3 linked regions of the Homo sapiens genome follow. The protein of the gene in region 1 interacts with the protein of each later gene in a biochemical or structural test. Each region holds a gene or a part of one and is shown on either strand. Other genes may lie near its edges.

What was found.
Region 2: of the proteins of SIRT3 (region 1) and GLDC, one has a biochemical effect on the other in vitro, tested with the Homo sapiens proteins (one study listed by BioGRID).
Region 3: the proteins of SIRT3 (region 1) and OPA1 form a complex in vitro, tested with the Homo sapiens proteins (one study listed by IntAct).

What each region holds. Positions count from the first base shown.
Region 1 is NC_000011.10:226,252-229,906, forward strand, and holds part of SIRT3 (NAD-dependent protein deacetylase sirtuin-3, mitochondrial), read right to left. Parts: intron 1-3,655.
Region 2 is NC_000009.12:6,590,204-6,593,858, forward strand, and holds part of GLDC (glycine dehydrogenase (decarboxylating), mitochondrial precursor), read right to left. Parts: intron 2,788-3,655; coding exon 2,648-2,787; intron 2,021-2,647; coding exon 1,940-2,020; intron 1-1,939. UniProt on the Homo sapiens protein: The glycine cleavage system catalyzes the degradation of glycine.
Region 3 is NC_000003.12:193,694,176-193,697,930, reverse strand, and holds the end of OPA1 (dynamin-like GTPase OPA1, mitochondrial), read right to left. Parts: intron 3,326-3,755; 3' UTR 120-3,325; downstream 1-119. UniProt on the Homo sapiens protein: Dynamin-related GTPase that is essential for normal mitochondrial morphology by mediating fusion of the mitochondrial inner membranes, regulating cristae morphology and maintaining respiratory chain function.

The sequences.
Region 1 (3,655 bases):
AGAAGCCTAATGGTGGCTGGGGAGGGAGGGGTACAGTGAGGCGCGTCTGACCTCCTCTCCTGCTACGGCCAGGAACTCAAGCTTCCAAGGTTTCTCTGGGGTTCCCTTGACCAAGGGGAGGGCTCCATTCAGTTGGTTGCAGGGCTTAGAATTTTATTTTATATTTTATTTTTTTGAGATGGCATCTCGCTCTGTCACCCAGGCTGGAGTGCAGTGGCATGATCTCGGTTCACTACAACTTCTGCCTCCTGGGTTCCAGCAATTCTCCTGCCTCAGCCTCCCGAGTAGCTGGGATTACAGATGGGTGCCACCACAAATGGCTCATCTTTGTATTTTTAGTAGAGACGGGGTTTCACCATGTTGGCCAGGCTGGTCTCAAACTCCTAACTCAGGTGATCCACCCGCCTCAGCTTCCCAAAGTACTGGGATTACAGGCAGGAGCCACCGCGCCCAGCCTAGAATTTTATTTTATTTTTCTTAAGGAAGGCCTACAATTATTATTATTATTTTTTTTTTTTTGAGATGGAGTTTCGCTCTTGTTTCCCAGGCTGGAGTGCAATGGCCTAATCTCAGCTCACCGCAACCTCCGCCTCCCTGGTTCAAGCAATTCGCCTGCCTCAGCCTCCCGAGTATCTGAGATTATAGGCATGCACCATCACGCCCGGCTAATTTTGTATTTTTAGTAGATATGGGGTTTCTCCATGTTGGTCAGGCTGGTCTCAAACTCCTGACCTCAGGCGATCCACCCACCCGGCCTCCCAAAGTACTGGGATTACGGGCGTGAGCCACCATGACCAACTGGCCTACAAATTTTAAGCAGAAGAAATAAAAGAAAATTCATATGGAAAACCACAGTGGAGAAACCGCAAAACTCCAAAGACAAAAGTCTTAAAAAACAGGCAGAGAGGCCAGACACGGTGGCTCATGCCTGTCATCCCAGCACTTTGGGAGGCCGAGGCGGGTGGATCATGAGGTCAGGAGTTCGACACCAGCCTCACCAACATAGTGAAACCCCATCTCTACTAAAAATACAAAAATTAGCTGGGCATGGTGGCGCATGCCTGCAATCCCAGCTACTCAGGAGGATGAGGCAAGAGAATCGCTTGAACCTGAGAGGGGGAGGTTGCAATGAGCTGAGATCATACCACTGCACTCCAGCCTGGGCAACAGAGCAAGACTCTATCTCAAAAAAACAAAAAATCCAAACAACAACAACAAAAATAAAACAGGCAGAGAACAGATAGCAACAGTTTCAGAAATTTATATGAAAAGCCAAAAGATTCAGACCAGCCAACACAGTACTGAAGGAGAAGAACAAAGGTGGGGAATTAACATCAACCTGTTGCCCAAATTATCTATTTTATTCTCTTATTTATTTATTTATTTTGTTTTGAGATGGAGTCTCACTCTGTCACCCAGGCTGGAGTGCAGTGGTGCGATCTCAGCTCACAGCAACCTCCCCTCCCAGGTTCAAGCAATTCTTCTGCCTCAGCCTCCTGAGTAGCTGGGATTACAGGTGCACCACCACACCTGGCTAATTTTTGTATTTTTAGTAGAGATGGGATTTCACCATTTTGGCAGGCTGCTCTCAAGCTTCCCACCTCAGGTGACCCGCCTGTCTAGGCCTCCCAAAGTGCTGGAATTACAGGCGTGAGCCACTGTGCCCAGTCCCAAATAATCTCTTTTAAATGCAAATCCCTTCACATCATTTTCCTGCCTAAAAATCCTCCAATGCCTCCCATGATCGTCAGGATACAGTTCAAACCCTAACAGAGCAAGCAGGCCTCCCACACTCCAGGTCTCTGCTGCCAGAAACAGACTCTTACATCCAGACGGCCTCATCTCAAAGGTGCTTCCCAGCCTACTCTGTTCCTACAGCTGAGTCAGTGTAGTGTCCAGTACATATTTATAGTAAAATTCGTATGGCACCCAGTTGTAACTGTTGGATGACTCCACCTTATTTTAATTTCTATTCACATCCACAGAACCCAGCAAAGGGCCTGGCACTGAGGAGACTAAACTATTTGTTGAATAAATTGGTCATTCAATGAATGAGTTGACCAAAACAATAATACGTATATATCAAGTTTCTACTATGTGCTGGACTCACACTTCCTAATTTCAAAACTTACTACAAAGCTACAGTAACCAAAACATTATAGTGCAGGCACAAGGATATACAGATAACAATGGAATAGAATTGAGACTCTAGAAATAACCCATACACCTATGGCCAACTGATTTTCAACAACAATGCCAAGACCACAGTTTTTTTAAACAAATGGTGCTGGAACAATTACATATCCACATAAAAGAAAATGAAGCTGGATCCCTACCTTACAGCGCACACAAAAATTAACTCAAAATGGATCAAAGAACTAAATGTAAAAGCTTTAAACTATAAAACTCTTATAAGAAAACAGGAGTAAAACAATACCATTTCTCAGATATGATTCCAAAAGAGTGAGAAAATAAATAGACAAACTAGATTTCATCAAAATCAAAACTTCTATGCATCAAAAGACATCAACAAAGTAAAAAAGACAACCTACAGAATGACAGAAAATATTTGCAAATCATGTCTCTGATAAGGATCTAGCTTCCAGAATATATAAAGGACTCTCTTAACAATAAAAAAGACAACACAATTAAACAATGCGCAAAGGACTTCAATCTCCAAAGATATACAAATGGCCAAAAAGCACATGGAAAGATGTTTGATATCATGAATCATTAGGAAAATGCCAATCAGTGCTACAGTGGGTTACCACCTCCCACCCACTGGGATAGCTGTAATTAAAAAATGGAAAGTAAGTGTTGGGATGTGGAAAAGATGAAACCCTTGCCCACTGTTGGTGGAATGTAAAATGGTCCAGCTTCTGCAGATAACAGTATATTCGTTCCTCAAAAAGTTAAAACGGGCCGGGCGCAGTGGCTCTCGCCTGTAATCCCACACTTTGGGAGAAAGAGGCAGGCGGATCACGAGGTCAAGAGATCGAGACATCCTGGCCAACATGGTGAAACTACTCTACTAAATACAAAAATTAGCCGGGCGTGGTGGTGTGTGCCTGTAGTCCCAGCTACTCAGGAAGCTGAGGCAGGAGAATCGCTTGAACCCAGGAGGCGGATGGTACAGTGAGCCGAGATTGCGCCACTGCACTCCAGCCTGGTGATAAGAGCTAGACTCCGTCTCAAAACAAACAAACAAAAAAGTTAAACATGGGCAGGGCATGGTGGCTCACGCCTGTAATCTTAGCACTTTGGGAGGCCGAGGCGGGTGAACCACCTGAGGTCAGGAATGCAAGAGCAGCCTGGCCAACATGGTGAAACCCCATCTCTACTAGAAATACAAAAAACATTAGCTGGGCATGGTGGCAGGCACCTGTAATCCCAGCTTCTCAGGAGGCTGAGGCAGGAGAATCGCTTGAACCCGGGAGGCAGAGGTTGTATTGAGCCGAAATCGCGCCATTGCACTCCAGCCTGGGTGACAGTGTAAGACTGTGTCTCAAAAAATAAATAAATAAATATAGCTAAACGTGGAGTTACCCAGCAATACTTGTAGGTATCATACTCAAAAGAATAAAAAACAAGGACTCTCAAACGAATACTTGCATATGCTCCACAGCAGAACTATACACAAGAGCAGAAAGGTGGG
Region 2 (3,655 bases), on another chromosome or scaffold:
AAGAACATTATCAAGAAAGTTAAGAGACTGACTACCCACAGAATGGAAGAAAATATATGTAAGTCATATATCTGATAAGGATTTAATATCCAGAATATATAATCAATACATGGCTTGATCCTCATTCCTTGCCAGGCTAATAATATGACTAATACAGATTTAATACTTGTCCCCTCCAGATCTCAGGGTGAAATGTGATCCCCAGTGTTGAAGATGGGCTTGGCGCTGTCTTCACAGTAATGAGTGAGTTCTCACTCTACTAGTTCCCATGAGAACTGATGAGAAGTGATTGTTAAAAAGAGCCTGGCACCTCCCTCCTCTCTCTCTCTTCCTTTTTCTTTTGCCATGTGATGCCTGCTCCTCTTCCCCTTCCTTCATGAGAGGAAGTTTCCTGAAACCCTCACCAGAAGCAAACGCTTCTTGCACAGCACAGCCTGCAGAAACATGAGCCAAATAAAGCTATTTTATTTATAAATTATTTAGCCTCAGGTACTCCAATGCAAATGAACTAAAATAATGGCCCTCTTGACCCCTTAGTGATGCTCCAGAAACATTTCTCAAATGCATGAACCAAATATCTGTGATTAAATTTAGTGCAGAGTTCTACAGAGAAGGAGCTAACTCAGTCCTGTTTAATTGAGGTTTAAAAGAGAACACTGTGATGCTTCTTTGATCATTTATGAATGTTATCTGGTATAACCCTTTGAAGTCCTCTCTCAAAGAGGGCACAGATAAGCAAGACAGCACCACTCAGCACTCTGGAAGGTATTTCTACTTCCTTTCATCTATCCATTTAACAAATATTTACTTAGTGATTAATACACACCAGGCAGTGTAGGCTGTTGTGATTAACACCTTGCCACAGGTCTAGGTAGCTACTGTCGGCTCTCTTTCACTCTCATCCCATGGAATGGTAACTTTTCTCTTGCTTTCCCCCACTACTTCATTATTTTAGAAAGCAACTCATTACACTGAACTGCTTATAGCTTTCATGTACTCCCTCTCCCAGCCTTTGTGACTGCTTTCTCCAGTGTCTAGAACACTCGGACCCATCTTCCTTTCCCTCTTGTGCCATCTTGGTCTAGATAACTCCTGCTTATCTTCTTGGTAAGGAGCTCATCCTGTGAGCTCCCAGAACATCTTCACACATCAGTCACCTGGATTCTAATCTTAAGCTTGTTTATCTGAATCCCTAATAAACTGTAAGCACCAGGAGGACAAGAAGCATGTCTAATTCACCACTGTGTCTTCAGGGCCTAGCATAGCACCTGACACATATTGGGTCCTCAATAAATATGTATTAAATGAATATCATAATTTTCCAATGAATGACATAACCAAGATACAAATGTCTTGCATCTTTGTAGTAGAGGCAGTTTCTTTCTTTTTTCTTTTTTTGAGATGGAGTTTTGCTCTTGCTGCCCAGGCTAGAGTGCAATGGCGCAATCTCAGCTCACTGCAACCGCCGCCTCCTGGGTTGAAGCAATTCTCCCACCTCAGCCTCCTGAGTAACTGGGATTACAGGTATGTGCCACCATGCCTGGCTAATTTTGTATTTTTAGTGGAGACGGGGTTTCTCCATGTTGGTCAGGCTGGTCTTGAACTCCTGACCTCAGGTGATCTGCCCCCCCGCCCCCCTGACCTCCCAAAGTGCTGGGATTACAGGCATGAGCCACCATCCCCAGCCTAGAGGCACTTTCAATGAAACACCATTAACAATCTTTCCAACTAGCCTGGGTGCATAATACTGGCTGGAGCCCTACAGCAGTGACCTCCAGCTGTCAGCAGTGACTAGCAAGGGATAGTCAGTGGAATAATTTTAACAACAAGCTACCAGTGTCACACTTGGGCCCCTTCTCCCTCACACTCAGGGGATAAGCTACTTTTGCTACCACCTCCAATAGTTATGATGAGGAACGCATGTTTTTATTTTACTTACTGCAGATGACTCACAACCAAAGATCCACAACAAATCGTCCAGATCTTTTTCATTGACTGTTTCATCAAGAGAAATACCAAGCTACAGAAACACAAACAAAATGGAAAACATCAACTCTAAACTCCACATCACTGGAGGAATCCCAAGAGAGGTCAAAGGGGAGACAGTGCTAAACAAAATCCCATCATTCCAAAATATCAGGGTACAATTATCTCCACGCTAAGGCTTAGAGGAAGGTGGCTAGACCAGTCCCAGGTTTCACAAGGCTTCGAGTTTTGCCAGCCACCTCTGAACTCTAACATTCCATGGCTGCAGGACACTCCTTTTGAAGCTAGACATGCTTATCTTTTTCTTCCCTTAACCCACTTATCAGATATTGAGGAGATTTTCTTCCCTTAACCTGTATATCAGTTATCAGAGCCTTTATCTTAAAGTCAGTCATACTGTGAAGAGAGGAGTATTATGAACAAAATATGTGCATTTCAGTCCCACATATGAAAACACTAAGTCTAAAAGAAAGCAAAGGGTGAATGATCCTTTACTGAAAAGACCACAGTGTTGCATAATGTAAATAACACTTGTTTATGAAAAAATAGGACTGTGCCTAAAGTTTTCCTTTTTATTTTTTAAAAACAAAGAGAAAACCTTTTAATGAGAAACAATGTGAAAATTTGAAAAACTGGTAAAAATACTGAAAATTTGACTTACTGTGCCATCCTCAAAAAGCCGAAAATTGATCTGCCGCTGAGCGGCCCTGCCCAAGACCTCCTTCACTGAGCAGCCACACTGAATCTTCAAGGTATCAAAGAACAGGTCATGCTGGAGTTGATGCCCTGCTCGCTTGAGACCTACACAAGATAGGAGATCCCCCAAACTCTCATATAGAAACCTGCTCCTCAGCCATTGACATGTCACAGAATAATAAAGAGATAAATTCTACTAGACTCTTGTTGGTCCTGGGGAGTGCTTTGGTGATTGCTTTTTAAAAAACTAAACATGTTTATTATCATGCTGTAGAAAATTATGAAATACATATAAAAGAGTAAGGAAAATCAACATACAATTGCATTACTGCGTGTATTTTGGTGTATTATTTCTCAAGAAATGGGGGAGCAGGTAGTATCAGATATATATATATATATATAAAATTATACCTTTTTTTTTTTGAGAGATACAGTCTCACTCTGTTGTCCAGGCTGGAATGCAGTGGCATGATCATAGCTGATTGCATCCTCAAACTCCTGGGCTCAAGCTCATGCAATCCCCTTGCCTCAGCCTCCCAAGTAACTGGGATCAAGGACTCATGCCATCACACCTGGCTAATAATTTTTTAAATTTTTTGAAGACAGTGATCTTGCCATGTTGCCCAGGCTGGCCTTGAACTCTGGGACTCAAGCAATTCTCCCACCTCAGCCTCCCAAAACGATGGGATTATAGGTGTGAACCACCACACCTGGTCTCATCTATGCTTTCCTATAGATCACTATTTTAAACCATATTTAATGGCTGTACAATAGTCAAACATATGGATGAACCATGATTTAATCACTTTTTTTTTTTTTTTTTGAGAGATGGAGTCTCACTCTGTTGCCCAGGATGGAGTACAGTGGAGCAATCTTGGCACACTGCAACCTCCGCCTCCTAAATTCAAGCAATTCTCCTGCCTCAGCCTCCCGAGTAGCTGGGACTACAGGAGTATGCCACCACTCCCAGCTG
Region 3 (3,755 bases), on another chromosome or scaffold:
ATCAGATGGTAGATGAAATTAAAGTCTCTTCCAGTTCTAAAGCTTAGTTATAACTTCTTAGTAAGCCTCATATGAACATGTTGGCAGCATTAATGAAAATGACAGCCTTGGCAGCAAAGTGAAATTAGAAAACCTTTTTTATATATTTTACCAAGGAAAATAACAAAATGTTTTGACAAGTACCACGATGTGAAAAAAAGCACCGGTTGACCATGGAGTACAACTGTGAAATGCAAGGCATGTGAAATTCAAGCATTCAGAGAAAAGCCACACTGAGAGCTTGTTAGACCATGAATCTGGTTATACTATGGGGTCAAATAATGACCCTAGGTATACAGGTTTCTCTTTCCCTCGTTAAAACAGAAAAAAATTTAAAAGATGCTCTCCAATAATAGAATTATAATGTGATTTAAATATTTTTTAATTACTCATCTACACAAATGACCTTTGATCAAGCTCAGGCAAAATATAAGTTGCAATAATATCTACACGTAATGTGAAGGTTTTAAAAAAATAATACAAAGTTCATTCACAGTGCACAAGTGAAAACAAGGTAAGTTTCAAATATCTCAACAACATATAGCCATGATCATTCAAAAGGTAAGCATATTTTAAAGCACATTTCCATACTGCTAGAGCTATAACATAGACCAGCTTAGAGAACTGAGAGAAAAACCATTACTTTGATCCCCTTTATTGGAAAGCAAAAATACCAGATTTCTTTCCTCAGATACATACATCTAGAATAAATAAATACAAAATTATTAACTAAAGATTTTATCTTTTAAACCTATACTCTGACTCTCATCCTATGTCAAATTCCCACATTGTGAGGCTGGGAAGCACCACTCTCTGCCATGTTCCCTACTTATTTTTATATCATTCATTTGCATTTGGAGGCTGAATAATTTGCAGAAAGAAGTCTGCGGAAAAAACTGTAGAAAATGGGAATACAAAGAGGGCAATATCATAAACTACTAGAAAGGTTGACTGTTCCACCCGCAACTATAGCACAGTGGGTTAAACGGGGAAGCTGCAAGGGCCACTTATTTCGTGCTGTGCACTGCCTAGGTACACTGATTTTTAAAATTGAAGTCCTAGCCAAATTAAGTTTGGATATCATCTATTTACAGTTGTTCAGTCTTCCATACAGAGCTTTGTCCACTCCACTCTTTGCAAATTCTGACATAAAAACAAATGATTCTGTGGCTAGTTCGAATTTAACTTCTGTATATTTAGTATCTTTTTGTTTAAATTAGAATCATTTCTGACTTTTGAACTACAGACACAAGACACAGGGTTTACTCTTGAGACTGAATTTTATTTTCTTTCAATAACATCTGCAGTTGATAAATACCTAGCTTTCAAGGAAAAATAAAGCATGCTTAGGATGAGATCAGCTAAAAAGAAGAAAAAAAAACCCATGAAAGAAGCCACATTACTGTGGGGCATGGAGAGGGCGTCAGGACTCTCATGTGGGACTTTTAGTAATATTAATTGTTATCATCTATTCACATACGTTACAATACTGATCTCCTCAAAGAAATGAAGATCTCCCTCCATCTCTTTTTAAAACTTATACAAAGGGATGTGATAACAGTAGTGACTAATATTAGCCTTTTCCTTGGGAGAAATCTGTGGAAATACAGCTGAAGGTCTTTCTTTCTATAGTTGACAGAAGTAAATAAATATGGTCCTGTTTTATTCTTTAGAAATAGATGTGTAGTTGTAATTGTTATGCTTTACAACTGCAAAAATATTCATTAACATGCATTAACCTGTAAGCACTGGTTAGAGGGGTGTACCCAGTAAGGTCATCTCCTAATCTGTGTATAGAACATAATAGAGCTCTCCTCCCTTTCTATTCACTCCTGTCCCTAGACCTAAAAGAAATAAAAAAAGTTCCTGACTATGCATCTACCAGCGCATCTGTGCTGCTTAAGGCTGGACCTACTTTTCTTATCAAACAGTATAAAACAAACATACATTGAATTCCTGGTTTCGGAAGTATTTTTTCATATCCTCAACCGAGCATACCAAGTGTTACATCTTGAGGGATCACAACGAAGCATGCATTGATGTAAAACAATAAAATGGGGAGTAGCAATGGGGCTGTTACCAAAAAGCAACTCCAAGAAAATAAGATTTAGCAAACTGTAAAATCAAAAACATCACACAATGGACACTTTTATTAACAAAGTAAAGGCTTAGTGAAAAGGCAGCAAATGAGATAGACATTTTAAGTAAAGAAAGCATTTCTTTGCTTGAATGTCCTTTAGCCAATTAAAAAATATTTATTTAAAACACATGAAAATGTTGTGAAGGTAGTATTGTAATTAAATTGCAATAAATTGAACTAAATTTTTCTTTATTCAGCTGAGAGGGGGATGGTCAACATTACTTTAATTGTTGAAATAATTTCTATTTAAAATAGTCTTATGAAAGAAAGCCTTTTTCTGATACCTAGTTGAAATGTTTGATAATATTCTAAATGAAATTAGTCAATTGATTATCCTTAATCTTCCTCATCCTGTGTCATAATCCGGTGGCTCTGTCAACAGGAGAAAAACCACTATTAACAGAAAGCCTAACGTAAGTATACAACATCTAAAATAAATCAATTTCAAATGGATATAGAGAGTGAGAAAACAGCAACTGAATCAAATAGGTAAGCTGGTACTGACTTGGCTTCCAAGGCAAATTTCTTCGCTGGCTATGAAGGGTTGAAATTTCTTTCACTGAACGTTACAATCCAAATTAACCTGTTTTAAGGGTTCTTCTGTTACCCATTTTTCTTTCATGTGGTGAATATAAACTGAATTATCATGGTCAAATAGTTTCTGGGAATAGAATACTACAGACACATACAATGATTTAGCAGGCTACTGTGATTTTATATACAATTGATAACTTTAAACAATTGCTATATAAGTTTTATTTCAAAACACCTAGCATTGTATTTCTGGAAAAGAAACTGAACATTGAGCAACCTCAGTTAATCCATTAAACGAGTGCCACCACAAATAAGACAACAAACAGAGAACAAGTTTCTTATCTTCAAGGACTGAACCTAATGGCCATACCAATTATATTATTCCGATTTGTCACTTTAGTACAACAAAATAGGATGTTAATCCATTACCACTGTTCTTCCATTCGAGAGGCAGCTGATGGTTAAAGCGCCCGTAACATACATCGATTATTTTTATCCCATGACTTTATTGTATGTTTAGAAAGGTGGAACAGCAGAAGAAAAAGAGGCTGGACAAAAGACGTTGATGTTTTTGTTCTTCAGATGTATGCAGAGCTGATTATGAGTACGATTCTGTAAAAATAAACCCATTTAACAAACTGAGGTCAGGGGAGATAAATGCAAAATTTCTAAACAAAGTTGATGACTGCATGATCACAACAATGTTGAAGCCTAACCGCTTACCTTTGCTAGTTTTACTAAACTTATATAGTCTATCACCGACCTAACAATATTGGCATAATTTTTTTATCAAACATAAGTTAAAAGCATATACTAAAATTAATTGAAGAAGAATCTGTGTATGACTGTATAGCATATAAACACCTTCAGCAAATATTAGAATAACAATTAATTAGGAATCCTATGTGTTAAAACTATACTTGAGAAAGTATTCCTTAGGGTCCTTGGTAACTTTGATAAAATGGTCAGAATGAAGCAAGGTTACCATTCTGCCAGATTTATTCTTTTAAATGCATCTGCAGGGTACAAAACAGATCATCTG